Linked DNA regions of Homo sapiens: region 2 is linked to region 1. Evidence: fine-mapped expression QTL. Tissue or cell type: prefrontal cortex. Region 1 holds a variant in brackets; the other region holds the start of a gene. All regions are shown on one strand. Distances are between the middles of the regions.

Region 1 (8,104 bases):
TCAAACCATTTGTGGCAGCCGCGCCACACCAGAGGGTGCAGGTCGCAGCCCAGTGCTCTGAAGAGGGGGCCACGGGGAGCCAGGAGACCACAGGCGTGGGTTCTGAGCCCACGTCCGCTGCTGCCTCCCCGGGTCCCGGCATCAATTCCCCACCCGCTCACCTCCCTGAGCCTGCAACAAGAGGATGTGGATGAACAGTGTTCCACTGTGTGTGTATATTAATACCACGTTTTATCTATCCGCTCACCTCTTCATGGTCATTCTCGGCAGCAAGGATGTTTAGAGAATGTTATGCTAAGTGAAAAAAGCCAGGAACAGAAAGACAAATAGCTCATGATCTCACTCATGTGGGAGCTGAAAAAGTCGATCGCATAGAAGTAGCGAGTTGGGTGCTGTGGCTCATACCTGTAACCGCAGCACTTTGCGAGGTCGAGGTAGGAGGTCCCTTGAGCCCAGGATTTCGAGACCAGCCTGGGCAGCATAGTGGGACCCCGTCTCTACAAAAAGTTTTGTTTTTTTTTTTAATTTGCTGGTAGTGGTGGGATGCATGCCTGTAGTCACAGCTACTGGGGAGGCCAAGGCGGGACGATCGCTGGAGCCCGGGAGTTGGAGGCTGCAATGAGCCATGATCACACCACTGCACTCCAACCTGGGTGACCAAGAAAGACCTTGTCTCTAATGAAAAAAAAAAAAGAACAGGGTAGAATAGTGATGACCAGAAGCAGGGAAGGGTGGGAGGACAGCCAGAGATGGCTTAATGGCTATAGAACTACATCTAGACAGGAGGAATAAGTTCTAGTGTTCTATAACACTGTAAGATGACTATCATTAACACAATGTATTGTATATTTTCAAATAGCTGCAAGAACGAATTTTGAATGTTCCCAACCCAAAGAAATAATAAATGTTTGAGGTGATGGATATGCTAATTACCCTGATTTGATTATTACACATTTCTACATGTATTAAAATATCACTGTACCTAATGAATGTGTAGAATTATTATGGTCAACTAAAAATAATAATAAATGCAAAAAAAAAGGATGTGAGGAATAACTCCACTCACGGCCCTCCCTGGGGTGCACCTCCTCCGTGTACCTGACCACACATCAGGGGAAGGCACAGAGCTGGGACAGAAGCCCAGAGGTGTCCTGTCACCCCCCTGCTGCAGGCTGTCAGCCCCTCCTCATCACTTGCAGGGCCCAGACAAGGCAGCCCACCCGCCACAGGTGATGGGACCCCCAGCCACCCCTCCGGCCCCCCAACCCTGTGCCCCTCTCCCCAGCACCCCTCTGGTTCTGATGCGACAAGCCTTCTACAGGACCAGTGGCCACACTGCTCCCACCCTGGCCCTCACACTCTCTGCCTTCTCTTCCAGAAATGCTTGCCCCTTCCTCCTTGTTACCTGGCTCCCCCGATCCCTTAGGCCTCCCCTAATCCTCAACTGGCACCCCCAGCCCCTGTGTGGCCCCTTCCATCCTGGCACTTGTCTCTCCTGCTGACCTGGGAGCTCCAAAGCAGCAAGGACCTCAGCTGTCTCCCTCCCTGATCCTCAGGTTCCCAGCACCCAGGGCTGGGCCAGGCTTCAGCTGAGTGCTCTGCTGTTACCTGTAGAGTGAGTGGGTGGGTGGACTTTATAACCATGGCCCACCAGCCTTGACCTTTCATACAGTTTGACAGACCTCTTGCTGCCCCAGGCAGCCCCATGGCCCTGAAGGCAAGGGTACCCCTGTAGCACATCCCAGGGACAGAGCCAGACTCTACTACCTCCACCCCCTGCAACACCATTTTCTTTCCTGCCCTTCCCTGTTGCAAGCATATTCAAATGTTTAAATTCTGTTTGGGGAACAATTAGCCTGACATATGGTCTCATCACGTTTTGTCTTCCGATGGAAAAATCCAGGGGAAACTTGGAAAATGATGACTGGCGAGGCTTTAACGTGTTTTTGCTTTTTTTGATGGTCACAAGCAAGCCACAGATGAAAAGCCTGTTACCATCTGGTCCAACCCTCTCATCTGACTCAGGGGGAAACTGAGGCCCAGTGAGAAGAAGGTACCAGCCTAAGGTCTCCCAGATGCAAAATCCAGAGCCCTTGGCACTTGCCTCTCCGCCTCAATAACCTTCAGAGAGTTGGACCTAATCTTTGCAGTGGGGTGGTGGAAAGAGGGGCTTTTAGGGCCAACATGCTCGAGTTCTGTCCTCGAGATTGTGTGGCTGGAAGGCTTCATACCCCTGGACCATAAGAGGATGGCAGAATGGGGAGGACCTGCAGTTCCCTGTCTAGACCCCTCTTTGGTATCCCCATCAGGCAATGGCTTGGCCAACCAGGCCCCCGCTTCACTGCCCAGTGACGTCCAGACCTTGTTGCCATCCACCCTGCAGCTCCTAAGGATCCAGACGGCATCTGCCAAGAAGATACAGCAAGCCTGCCTGGAATCAGAACCCACTCCTGTGACTGCCAGAAAGAGCCCACTCCCTGCATCTTGCCCCGCTGGGCCTCATCTTTCCTGGGGATGGGGGTGAAATACCCAGCCACTTTCTGGCCCCTAGAGGCCCGATGTGCACATAGACGGGCTGGATGACATGTGCCTGGGCTCACTTATGGAGCATCTGTCCCCTCCCTCACCACAATATCAAATCCCGCAAGCAGAAGCAGGAGGAAGTCTGTCTCTGCCTGCGTGTGGTAGCTGGCACATCCCTGGTGCTCCATGCTGTGGGTGCCCGGCCACTCGCCTCTACAAGGACAGTGCTGTATGCTGACAAAGCTTTTCCATTCTGCATAATGGTTTTGTTTGGTTTTTGTTGTTGTTCACAAGAACCCAGGCAGGTATGATTATTATCATGCTGACTTTGTGAATGAGACAACGGAGACTCAGAGAGTGAAGGCGACACATTCAGTAAGGGGCAGGGCCAGGATGTCCCCTGTGTCATAGGCTCTAGGGAGCTCAGGCACTCCTAGAGGGGAGATGTGAAGGCATCTCCCTGGGCTGGAGCTGAATGAGGATAATTCCCCTCCCTTTGTTCTGCAAGGAGTGGAGTCCCTGGAGCTACATCCAGTGCCATGGTCCAGAAAGGGCAGACCTGTAGCCAAGAGATGTCCCCCAAGCACCGTCACATGCCTGAGGTCCTGAGGATGCTGTGGAGGGGCCACCCTCAGTGCACGCCTGAGCCGACACTGCAGAGCCTGGCTGTGTAGAGGTTCCCAGGAAGGACCTCCAGCAAGGGCAGGGCTAGATCCCGCCTGCCCACAGGGAAGGAGAAGCACAGGTGGGGAGAGCACAGGTGCTCTTTCCCTCCCGATGTATCAGCTGGGGGCCTAGCGCACAGGCCTTCTGCCAGGAGTGGAGGCTGCATGGGCATTCTGCAGGCCACCCCGTCCCCCCAGAAGCCCCACCACAGACAGCCACATGTTGAGCCTCCAGCTGACAGGGCACAGCTCTGACAACAGTGAGCAGCTGGGGGACCACACTCGTTAGCTCCCATTTAGGAGAAAAGGCATGCCTTGTCCTTCCTCCCTGAGCTGGGCTCCTGCAGGGCCTGGCCGGTGGCAGTTAAAGCATCCGGACGCTTTCGGACTCCCTGCCGCAGGAGGGGCTGCCCGGCCAGGGCTAGCGGGTGACCATGCTGTGCTGAGCGCCCACAGAAAGGGCTGGGCCCTACAGACTAATCCATTGTAGGGGCATGGATGGGAGTCGGGAGGCTCCTGTTGCTACAAAATGACAGTCCATCCATCCAATGTTCACTGCTGCCAGCTCTGTGGGCCCCCAAGAGCCACACGGTCTCTGACCTGGGGAGCACACAGGGAAGAGAAGCCAGCCCAGAGGTAGATGGCTTAGCCTGTACATGTGGCCCATGGAGGGCCTGGTAGGCTTCCTAGAAGAGGCATCTGACATCTGGGTCTTGAAGGATGAATAGGAGTTTGCTTCCAAGGGCGGATGGGAGAGAAATAGTCCAGACAGAAAGCACAGGCCATGTCCAGTCACAGAGCTAGAATTCTTCAAACCCAGGTCTCTCTGCTGTCAAAGCTGGTACTCTTAGAAGCTGCATTCTGCTGCTTGATGCAGGGGGAGCTGCAAACACCAAGCCAAGACTTGGAGAAGGGCCTAGGAACGGGCGCATTCAGGTGTTGTCTTCATCCATTTCGGCTGCCATAACAAAAATACCAGAGACTA[G/A]GAGAGACTTGTAAACAACAGAAGTTTATTGCTCACACCTGGAGGCTGGGAAGTCTAATATCAAGGCCCCAGCAGATTTGGTATTGCATGAGGGCCCCCCACTTCCTCACAGATGGCCATCTTCTCACTCTAACAAAACAGCAAGGAATCTCTCAGGCCTCTTCAAAAATGGCATTAATCCGTCAATCCCATTCATGAGGGCTCCTCCCCAGTGGCCTAATCACCCCCCAATTCTCCACCTCCTAAAACCATCACCTTAAGGACCAGGATGTCAGATTGTTTTGTTTTAGAGACAGAGTCTTGCCCTGTCACCCAGACTGGAGTGCAGTGGCACAGTCACAGCTCACTGCAGCCTCAACCTCCTGGGCTCAAAGGATCCTCCTGCTCCTGTGTGTAAATCTCCCACCTGCTGAGAGAAGCCAGCTCCCCAAACCACATGCACATCAGACTCTATCTCCAGATTCCATGTGAAATCCACCAAACGTGGGCCACCCAGGCGGTGGAGCACCGAAGGAGACACACATGAGGAAGACACAGGAAGGGGCTCTGTGTCACCTGGGACTGGCTCTGGGAGGATGCTGCAGCATTGGCTCTCAGGGACACAGAGCAGGCAGGGACACCCTCTGGGACAGGGACAGGACAGTTAGAGTGTGGAAAGATGGGGAGGGCAGAGGACACACCACACAGAAGTGTGGTACAGGCAAAGGCATCGAGAGAGACCCTCCCAGGGCAGGAGGGGACAGAAATGGTCCAGACAGAAAGACAGCCTGGAGGGAGCCAGCCACACTGATGATGATGGATAACATCTGTGGAAGGTTTGGAAACAGGAAATGACAAGAGCAAAAAATAAAAAATAAAATAAGGAAAATTAACCTAGCCATGGTACAGTCAGAAAACTACTAAGTATTCCAGGAAAAGGTTGGAGAGAGAAGGGTTTCTAAATTTCATTCTCAGAATCTAAAATAAAACTGATTTTCTGGCCTCTGGGAGCTCTGGAGAAGCTCTGGAAGTTGCAGGACCTGTGCAGTCACCACATCTTCCAGCTTTCCAGCCAGGTCATCGCTCCCCAAGTCCCAAATTGTGTGACTGTGACCACGATGGTCTCAAGGTGAGGGGCAATCAGAAGGGCTTTCAAAGACATGAGGTGTGGGCTCAGAGGCATGCACCAACTCATACATGCCAACTCATACACACACACACACACGCACTCACACACATGCGCACACACGCACACACATGCACTCTCACGCACACACACACATACACATACACATACGCATACACAGCAGCTCAGCGGTGGTGCACATTTTCTGTTATCAAAGGAGACAACAAAGAGGGGTCATGAAATGCAGCCAGCAGATGGAAGCCCGCTAAAATGTCAGCCAGAAGAAATAGCCCACGTCAGAAAAACAAAATTCCAGTTTAGCAAAATCCTTCCCTCCTCCCCCACTCCTCAGAGAAAATTTCCCGTGGAGGCCCCTGGAACTTTGGCAATCCAAGAAGAGTTATTTATTCTGGACCGCCGCGCCGCTGTGCATGTTAAGTACAAAAAGGAAAAATGCTTTCGGATTTGGAAATGGGGTTGCAGTCGCAGATGGTGCCTGAACATGCATAAATTCGGTGACTGCGTGAACAGATGGAAACTTGAAGGGGAAAAAAAAAATTAAAAAAAAACAACCTAGCATTTATCTGCCAGGCCACTGCGGAGCTGGAGAAGGGGAATCTGTCACTTGACTAGGAGGGTCTCGGTCTTCCAATCTGTGGGATGGGGGTAAGAAACCACCATACTCAATGGTCATTCCCAGCTGAGTTTCAGCCCTGTCTCTGCCACTGAGGAGCTGGGGGACCTGGCCCCTTACTTAACCTACTTCTTCATGTGACCCCGGGGATAATGCAGATGACCTGGCAGGGTTGTTGTGAGAATTGCCTGAAGTCATCCATGCATAGGACCTATCTGTACCTAGCCAGGGCGACAGCCCCATGAGTGGGGCCTCACTTGCCAGATAAAGCCCGGAGTAGCCCAGAGAGGAAGATGGAGCACCCTGAAAGCTCCACTGGTCGGTCCCACAGGAGAGGGGCTGGGGAGAGAGAGAGAGGAAATAGAGACGGACTCCTCCCAGCTTCCCCTTTCCAGAAGGTTTCTGGGCTCTGGGCAAGAGCTGCACAGGCATGCTGTTCAGGAGAAGCCGACGGTAGGCCAGGCTGCAAGGGCTGTGCCAAGAAAGGGTCTGTGGGCAGGTTCAGTGGGAACGTAGGAAGAATGAAGATAACTTAGAAGGAGGGTTCTTTCTCTTTTTGTTTTTGAGACAGGGGCTCCCTCTGTCACCCAGGCTAGAGTGCCGGGGTGCATTCATGGCTCACTGAAGCCTCAACCTCCTGGGCTCAAGATCCTCCCACATCCGTGCACCAACACACCTGGTGATATGGGTCAGACTTTGTGTCCCCACCAAATCTCATCTTAAATTGTAATCCCCAGGTGTTGAGGGAAAGACCTGGTGGGACGTGTTTGGATCATGGGGGTGGTTCCCCCATGCTGTCCTCATGATAGAGAGTGATTTCTCATGAGATTTGATGGTTTTATAAGGGGCTCTTACCCTTTCACTTCCTACACATCCTCTCTCACCTACCGCCACGTAAGACGTGCCTGCTTCCCCTTCCGCCACGATCATAAATTTCCTGAGGCCTTTCCTGCCATGAGGAACTGTGAGTCAGTTAAACCTCTTTTCTTATAAATTACCCAGTCTCAGGCAGTTCTTCATAGCAGTGTGAAAATGGACTAATACACTTGGGTAATTTTCTTTTAATTTTTTGTAGGGACAAGGTCTCGTTACGTTACCTAGGCTGGTCTCGAACTCCTGGCCTCAAGCAATTCTCCCACCTCGGCCTTCCGAAGTGCTGGGATCTCAGGTGTGAGCCACCATGCTCAGAGCCAAAGGGAAGGTTCTATCCAGGGTGCCCAGAGATTCTTAGCAAGTCAGTCCTCAGATTCTGCTCCACACTGGGGAGTCCACATGGTACGGTGAATTGACTGCAAAAAAAATAGCCACAGTTCTCCACCCCTCCCTGCCTCCAGGCCCCCAAGGACATTTTGCAGCTACTCCCTGAGGAGGTGGCATCTACTTCTCCAACCTAGCAGGGTGACCTGCTGTGGCTGACAGAACCCAGTGGCAGTGAGTGTGTGTGCCAATGCGAGGCTGAGCTGCCACTCTCTTTGGCGCTTCTACTTCCACCAGGAGGACAGGCCCAGGTTGGCCTGCTGGAGGAGGAGATGCGTGGAGCAGAGCCACACTGGCCCCAGGGGCCCAGCCAAGGGCCCTAGGTGGAAGAAGATCCCACAGCCACCTTGCCAACCCGCAGACAACCACAGGCCCATGAGTGAGCCCTGCCGGGCCTGGCTCAGATCCGTAGAGCCACAAATGACCCACTGTTGCACAGGGAAAAAAAAACACATGTTTACAATTGCATGTCACCAGGTCTCAGTGGTTTTTATGCAGCGATTTTGTGACAACTGACACTGACCTACCTTCTTTCACCACACTCCCACTCCAAAGCAATTTCTGGCTCTGGAGAGAATGGGGGTTGGGGAGAGTCTCAGCACAAACCCAGAACTACAGTTCAAAACTCAGAAACTATGATTCAGAGGCAAAGGGCTCCCTCCCCATAGACCATGGCAACAGCTCCACCACTAAGGGCCAAGTCACCAGATTGTCTGAGAGTCCCTCTGCTTGCACCACTAGTTTCCCTGATGAAAGGCAGAAACGCCAGCCATCTCTGACCGAGGCCATCTCTGCATAGGGAGCTTCTGGCCCTCAGCTGTGGGGCTGGCACTGCAGAGAGGGCATCCCCACCCCTGCACGTGCCCACACAGGTGAAAGAAAGCCTGAGCAGCTGCCCCCAGCACAGGCTGGAAACCCTGGAGCTAGTCAGGAAG
Region 2 (8,104 bases), 120 kb after region 1:
GGCCTCCACCCCTCGATGACCTGATGTGTGCCCTTGGAGGGGCGTCTTCCTGGGACCGGACTTCAGGCCATTATCCCTGACACTGGTGGCGTGTGAATGACTAAACTGGCCAAAAATAAAAGCCCCCATAAATCTCCTATTTTCCTATAAGCTGTCGGGTACACAGAGTGTGCTGGGATTATTGATAGAAAACTTTATGGATGGGCTGCATCTTAAAATCAAAATACATTACCCAAAATCAATGTTGCCGTACATGGTACAGGGAGGACAAGAAAGGTCATCCGAGACAAGAATACTGAAACCCAACTCCAAGAGGACCTGAGCATTAAAATAAATAAATTTTGAAAGTGAGTTCCAGGAAAAACACTCACTTAGGGCTGTAATTTAAGGGTGCTTTCACAAGAGGCTGGGCAGTCTTTTTAAATAGCGCTTTTTAAAGTGCCTCTGAGAGTCCAGTGAATCCATCCACAAAATGGTATTGACAAGCACCCCAGCTCACAGCCCTATAATAACAGCTCATGATAGGTAATGAGTGAGAGCCCCGAGGCTGGGCACACAGTAGCCAGGCCCTGGCAGAAGCAAGCCCCCCGGGCACAGCCAACTGGGCAGGGCAGCCAACCCATGGCCCCATCAACCACATTACAAGAGGATCTGCCTCCAGGTCTCTGTGCACAGCGACCCCACAGGCATTTTATAGCTGTGGATGGAGGGAGGGGAAAACCGTGTTAGTTCCCATTGATGATTAATCAGGACTAGAAACAAAATGATCATGAAATACTCTCAAGTCCATAGCTTCACATAACCACGATTCACTGCAAACAGGTCATCTTTGTAGGAGCCCAAGAGATACCACAGTAGGTAGACCTGAATGGCTGTGTCCGCAGAGCTTAGTGTCCCTTTGGGAGAAGTGACACGCATGCTCCTCCCCAGCCACCTTCTTTAGAGTCTCCAACTGAGAGACCACATCCCACCAGGACTTAGTGAGAAGGAAATGGCTCCCCTGCAGGGAGTGGGGAGCCAGGCTTGGCAGAGACTGGCAGGGAAGGAACCCAGTGCCCTCTGACTGGCAGGAGCTGCAGTCTGGTCTTAGCTCACTAATCCTCCAACTAGCCAAAGGGCTAAGTCGAAGAGACAAAATCCCTGCCCTGCTCACAGAAAACCCACAGCAAAAGGGAGGCAAAGTGCTCCTAGCAGGGTTCCCTGTCCGAATATTTGCTAGGCTCTAACTATGGGCAGGCCCAGCTGGGAGTTAAAGACACAGAGAAAGCCAGTGTGGTGGCTCACTCCTATAATCCCAGTGCTTTGGGAGGCAGAGGCAGGAGGACTGTTTGAGGCCAGGAGTTTGAGACCAGCCTGCACAACACAGCAAGACCCCATCTCTACAAAAAATATTAAAAATAAAACATTAGCTGGGTATGGTGGCGCATGCCTGTAGTCCTAGCTACTTAGAAGGCTGAGACAGGAAGATGGCTTGAGCCCAGGGGTTCAAGACCAACCTGGGCAACACAGCAAGACCTCACCTCTACAAAAAATTTTAAACAAAATTAGCCAGGTATAGTGGTGCATGGCTGCAGTCCTAGCTACTTGGAAGGCTGAGGCAGAAGGATCGCTTGAGCCCAGGCATTCAAGACCAGCCTGGGCAACAGCAAGACCCCATCTCTACAAAAAACATTTTAAAAATTAGCTGGGTATGGTGGCGCATGCCTGTAGTCTCAGCTACTTAGAAGGCTGAGACACGAAGATGGCTTGAGCCCAGGGGTTCAAGACCAACCTGGGCAACAGAGCAAGAACTCACCTCTACAAAAATTTTAAGCACAAAATTAGCCAAGTGTGATGGTGCATGCCTGTAGTCCTAGCTACTTGGAAGGCTGAGGCAGAAGGATCGCTTGAGCCCAGGGGTTCAAGACCAGCCTAGGCAACATAGCAACACCCCATCTCTACAAAAAAAATATATATATATTAGCAAGGCATGGTGGGCTAATCCTCCTGGTGTCAGCATGATAACTCTGGAGGCTGAGGTGCTTGAGCTCAGGACGTTGAGGTGCAGTGAGCTAAGATCGTGCCACTGCACTCCAGCCTGGACAACAGAAAAAGACCGTGTCAAAAAAAAAAAAAAAAAAAACCATAGTGAAGGTGGGTCAGCTGCTCTCATCACAGTCTACAAGGCAGGGCAGAAAACAGATAGACCAAGCTGAACAGACAGGAAAGAGACTACAAGTCTAGCTCAGGCTGCTCCTTGCTCCCATCAGTCAAGGGTAGGGCCTTGCTCTCCACACCAACTCGAGGCATCAGGACCAGGGGCTCACCTGGAGGAGGGAAGAGCTTAGTGTTTTGGTTAAGATCCAGGACCCCAGAGTAAGACAGGCTTTGGGTTGATGCGTCACTCAGCCACTTACTAACTATGTGACCTTGGGCAAGTTCCGTAAGCTTCTGAGCTTCAACCATAAAATGGAGTGAAATCACCATGTCTACCCCTGGAGTTGTGATTGAGGTAAAATGAGCTCATTCATTCATTCCACAAGTATTTACTGAGCTCCTACTCTGTGCCCGACCCTGTTGTAGGCGCTAGAGATACATCAGTGAACAAGGCAGGCACAGTCTTAGAGACCTGCAACAAGACACTCAATAAATAAGGATGTGGTCCCATGTGTTGGAAGATGGCTGGCGAAATGGAAAAAATAAAGGAAGCAGAGTGAGGGCCTGGGAGTGCTGGGTGGTGGGAGGAGAGGCAGTGTAGACTGCAGTGTTAAATATGGTGGCCCAGGTGGGCCTCATGGAGAAGGTGACTGCTTGACAAAAACCAGAGCACAACGGAGTTAGCCAAGCAAGTATCTGTGGGAGAAGCATGTCAACCAGATGGTGCGGCTGGTGCAAGGGCCCTGGGGTAGAAGCATGCCCAGTGTGCTGCATTGTAGGAAGGAGAACAGTGTGGCTAGGGGAGTGTGAGCTATGGAGAAGACAGAAAAGATGAGAAGATGAAGGAAAAGGGTGAGCAGGAAGCAGAAAGGCAGATGGTTTGACCTTGGCAGCCACTGCAAGGCCACTGGTGTTTATGCCAAGTGAAATGGGAGCCACTGTGGGGTTTTTCAGCAGTGGAAGAGGGATCTGATTTCCCTGAGAAGGATCTCTTTGTCATGTTGAGAACTGATGCCTAGAAAGTGTCTAGTACATGGAAAGCATGTGAAAACATGTATCTGTCGCTCTTAGAGTAATACCAACTCATGCAGTGGGCAAGAAACACCCAACCCCACAAGGCGGTACAGGGATAAATTACTTCCAGATAATTCCCTCTAGCTACAGGGATTCTCCCACGGGCATCGCTGGTCTCCAGCATTAGCCTCTGCTTGGATCTGGCATCAGGAAAGGAGACTGCTACCTCTCCAGGTGGGCCACTGCGCAGTGGGCTAGCTCTTTCTTCAGAACCCTGCTTGGAATCAGTCCCCAAATGAGCCTGCTTTCCTGGAACCCCGCTGTGGTCCTGAATCTGCATAGAGCGGTGCAAGTCTGCCCTCTCCCTTCAGAAGCTGAGGACAGCAATGGGGCCTGGCAGGGTCTTACATTCGGGGGTCCAAAGTGGTTTCTAAGGGCACATGGGATTTCCTAGGAAAAGCTCCTGCCATGACAGAAGGAGCTGGCAACTGCCTCTGTGGAGCCCCTAGAGAGGAACTTGAGGGAAAGGAGGAAAGTCCTATAGGACCCCCTTCTTCCCTTTGCCCCCAGCAGGAGACCTTAGAAAACAAGGGCTTGATAGATGAGCCACAGTGAGCCAGGGGGTGGGAGTGACTCCTGGGCCATAGACGAGGAAACTGAAAGGCAGGCACTGGAGGCAAGAAGGGCTGGCCCCGGGCACCCGCTGGCGAGGACAGCCTTGGAGAGGGCCTGCAGCTCCTCCCCTCTGAGCTGTGCTGCGCTGGCCGCCTGGACCAGGGTGGCTGCTGGAGAGTGTTTTCCCTCTGGGTTTCCTTCTCCTTGGCTCCCAGGGAATCCTCTGGCGGTGCCTCCGGGAGGCTGGTAGCCGGGGAAGCAGGCACGTGAATCCACCGGGCTGCCCCACCCCAACCTGAGGTCAGAGCTGAGGCGTAGGGGCCGGGGTAGGGGCAGAGGTGCCGAAACGCACTAGCTGGGGACTCCCGGGGGAAGGAGATAGGAGAGACCCAAGGCGAGCCTTAGGACTCGCCCCTATGACTATGACTACGCGCTGCGTCCGAACCACATGTCCACCCCGCATTTGCCTTCGGGGACCAGACCGCGCTCCCTCAGATGGCTGGGGAGGGAGCAGACTCCGGGTGAAGGCTGGGGGAGGTACCGGGATGCCGAGTACGCCAGAGCAGGCGGGGGATGGGTTCCGGCTTCCTGCCGCCTCGGCATCTCGCTTTGCACCGGGCAAAGAAGGGGCCACGACCGGCGAAGAGCGCGTGGAGACACAGGGACCCGCGATCCAGGGGCAGGAACCCCGCCCCCTCCCGGAAACCTCCCGGGCCCTGAGTCGTGCCCGGCGCTCCCCACCCCACCCCACCCCCGCCGCCCCTGCCGTCACTCACGGCCGCTGCGGGCTGGCTAGCGTGTGCGCTCTCCGCGCCGCAGGCACCTGCTCGCTGGGCGCTGTGCGCTCACTTCTCCCTCGCGCACTGCAGACTCCCGGCGCTGCCGCCGCCACCCAGCGTAGTCTCCGGCTGGGCACAGCGTTCCGCCCTTCTCGCGGCCCCGGGCGCCCACCCATCCGTCATGGCCCAGGCCTGGGCCAAACAGCGGGGCAGCTGGTTGCCCAAACTGGGGTAAGGAGTTGAGGGCTGGGAGCTGCAGAGAGGACCGAGGGACACACGGGGAGCAGGGATGAGCGGCCGTCTCGAGCCGTGCAGACTGGGAAGAAGCCAGGGAGAGTTTGGGTGGGAGGACTCCCAACCCAAGCGGGTGCGGGGCGGGGCTGTACTCCAACCAGAAAGACGGTGGTCCCTCCGAGCGACCCCCGAGGAGAGAGGGGGAGCGCTCTGGGGCGGGGGCGGGGCGGGCTGTGGCAGGAGAGGGGAGGGCGGGGGCGATGCAGCGGTGGAGGCGGCTTGGCGCCCAGCCACTGACCGCCCCCTCCCTTCCCCTCCCCTCCCCCTCTCCCCGCCTCTCTCCGGCTCCGGGTCCGCCACGCCGGACCCGCTCTCCCCGCGCTGCGCTGGGTCGGACGCCAGGTCTGCGCGCCGCGGCTGAGCGCCCACTCGCCCTGCGGAAAGAGCCGCGGAGGAACCGGCGGGGGCGGCTGCGGGAGCCGAAGGAGGTGGCAATCGGGAGCAGAACCAGAAGGAGACAGGGAGGCAGAAGCTCGCGGCTCCGTGGCACGCACTCCCTCGGCCAGGGATGGGTCCCGGCGCGGCCCAGCCCCTGCCCGGCCCGCCGGGCAGAGACTGAACCGCGGATCCCCACCGTCCTGTGGACGACCGGACAGAGAGAGGCACTGACCGATCGCCAGCAGCCTCCCGGTGGGACCGCGTCTCCTGCACACCCCGCGCAGCGCCCCCCGCCGGAGCCGCACCGGGCAAGCCGGCGAGGGAGCGGGGCTGATTGGCGGCCGCCGGCGGCCAGGGGAGGGGGCGCCGCGCGGGGCCATGGCAGGCTCGGAGGCGTCCTAGCCCGAGCCGGAGCCGATCCGAGCCCACGCGGCCGCCGCCTCTCCGCTCCCGGGCCCCCGCCGCCACCGCGCCCCCCGCGGGAGATGGAACAGCGGAACCGGCTCGGTGCCCTCGGATACCTGCCGCCTCTGCTGCTGCATGCCCTGCTGCTCTTCGTGGCCGACGGTGAGCGCGGGAACTTTGCTGCCGCTGTGGACTCGGGGGGGTCTTTGCTGGGGCCGCCACCGAGAAGAAGAAGAAAGAGAACGAACCGGGAAGCTTCGCGGTCTCCAGCAATCCCGCTGTGCAGCCTGGGCCCGGAGGGGTAGGGAGAGGCGAGCGGCGAAGGGTCGCCGCAGCAGCAGCGCCGCGCCCGAGTCGTTCCCAGTCCCGCCGGGGCCCCGGCTGCGGAAAGGATGCCTGCGGGGAGCGGGAGTAGGCGCGCCCCAGCCAGGCTCTGGCGGTGCGGCCAGGGGCGGGGGAGAAGCACGAGTCGCCCCTGCCGCCCCGCCCCATCCGGAGGGAAGCAGTAGGCAGCCGATGGCCGGTCCCTGCCTCGGCCCTGCAGCCGCTTCCCCGAACTTTGCTAGCCCCTCCGGCCGTGCGCCAGGGAGCAGCTGCGGGGTGGGGGGCACAAGGCCAGCCAGCCAGAGACCGACTGCCTCGCTTTAGGTTGCCCCAGGCCCCCGACCTACAGCTGGTCACGCCTCTCTCTCTCTCCCCACCCCCAGCTGCATTCACAGAAGTCCCCAAAGATGTGACAGTACGGGAGGGAGACGACATCGAAATGCCCTGCGCGTTCCGGGCCAGCGGAGCCACCTCGTATTCGCTGGAGATTCAGTGGTGGTACCTCAAGGAGCCACCCCGGGAGCTGCTGCACGAGCTGGCGCTCAGCGTGCCGGGCGCCCGGAGCAAGGTAACCCGCCGCCCACGCGGTACCGGCGCGCGCCCGGCTCGCGCCCGGGGCGGCGAAGGCTAACCCAGGGAGGGAAGCAGCGGGCTTCACTCGCGCAGGGCGCCGCCCTGTGGCGCAGCCCATCTTCCACCTTCGCATCCCAAAGCATCTTCAAAGTCAGCAGTGGTTACCCCCAAACCTGTCAATTATTTTGACAGCATCGCTGTTCCCACCACCTCCCAGAACTCCATTCACGCCCAGCCCCTAAAGAGCCACACCTCAGCCTGGTCGCTTGCTCGTGCTCGCTGGCTGCGGCCCTCTGATGGGTGCTGGGTAGTGAAGGAAGCCCCCTTGGTCCCATCAGGCTCTCCCCGCCCTCTGCCACTTTGAGGACCCCAGGGCTCCCACGGCTGCGTTCCAGAGGCCACCAGAAAACCGAGTACCGGAAAGCCGGCAGGACCTCCAGCCCTCAGGGGCACAGAGGGGCCACTTCTCTGTGGCCGAAAACAGGCCCACGCTGCCTGTCTGCCTCAAAACCCACACTCTCTTACACACTCTAGTGTGCTCGCGTGCACACACACCTACACACACACCTACACCTACACACACCTACATTCTCCCAGGGTCCCACCCAGAGTTACTCCCACTGAGCCTCCCGCTGGGTGCTGTCCAGACACAGCGGCCCTCCCTCCAGTTCTTCACGGCTCCCAGTGAGCTGGGGGAGGATTTTGAGCCACGCGGCAGGGCCTAAGGATGCCCAGAGGGAAGGAGAGGGGCTTTCCTTCCCACCCTGGTGTCCATCCAGTCTCCCCAGTTCAGCCGGCAGGTGTGCACCAGGGCAGCCACCCGTTGGTCAGGCACCATGCTAGCTCCAAAGCCCGCTTCCTCCTGGGAAACTCTTGGAAAGCCGGACGTCCTTTGTGCCCTCAACCCCCATCCCCCGGGCGGTTTCGGTCCTAGCCTGCCGGAGGAGGGTGCCCTTGCCTAAAGGCGGATCCGAGTTCCCCTAGCCAGAAGGCCGCGAGCCTCACGTCTCTCTCTCCCTCTTTGCATTTTAGGTAACAAATAAGGATGCAACTAAAATCAGCGTAAGTGTGGAGCCCAGCGCGGGCCGCGGGAGACCCCTTCTGGCCGCCTCGGGTCCCGCAGCTCCCTCCCTTAGCAAGCCGCGGCGGCCGCGCATGTGGGGCCGCGCAAGTAGGGCAGCGATCGCAGCCTTGCATCGGTGGCTGCTCGGCGTGTCCGGGCGCCATCTGTCGCCGGTTGCAGGGTCGGGTTCTCTTTTGTGTAAATCAAGGGTCCAAGGCTTGAGTCCCCTAATTCGGCTCGGCGCTGACCTGTAAAACTCCCCTTGGTCGGACTGCGCGCTTAGGGCCTCTCGCGCCTGCCAGCCTCCGCTCTGCGGGCATTCCTCCTAGCACCGGGAGCGCGCGGCTGCTCGCCCTCGCCGCGACCGTGGCGCCAGCTTCCCGCCCCCTCTGCCCCGCCCTGAGCATCTGCTCTGCGCCCTCCGCTGCAACCCTTTATCCTCCGCCTGGATTGCGGGTCTGGGTGCGGGGTGTTGCAGGCTTGCAGGGGACGGGGTAGGGGGTGGTTGTGCCAGGCTGCGAGG

Evidence for each region. PIP is the estimated chance that this variant, and not a neighbour inherited with it, causes the effect.
Region 2: it holds the start of VSTM2B-DT, and the variant in region 1 is fine-mapped to the expression of VSTM2B-DT in prefrontal cortex (GTEx, PIP above 0.99). The same link has a PIP of 0.9 or more in amygdala, anterior cingulate cortex, cerebral cortex and nucleus accumbens.

What each region holds. Positions count from the first base shown.
Region 1 is chr19:29,405,766-29,413,869 of GRCh38, forward strand. VSTM2B-DT (VSTM2B divergent transcript) reads right to left here. Exons shown (of 10, transcript NR_040029.2): 3 at 7,010-7,201. Among named protein-coding and RNA genes, the nearest start is that of VSTM2B-DT, 120 kb to the right of the region's middle. The variant G/A (reference allele first, on the strand shown) is at 4,174.
Region 2 is chr19:29,520,883-29,528,986 of GRCh38, forward strand. VSTM2B-DT (VSTM2B divergent transcript) reads right to left here and starts at 4,868. Exons shown (of 10, transcript NR_040029.2): 1 at 4,542-4,868. VSTM2B (V-set and transmembrane domain containing 2B) reads left to right here and starts at 5,112. Exons shown (of 5, transcript NM_001146339.2): 1 at 5,112-5,783; 2 at 6,329-6,513; 3 at 7,551-7,580. The coding sequence starts at 5,702. All of the region lies in intron 1 of LOC124904683 (a long non-coding RNA gene), which reads right to left.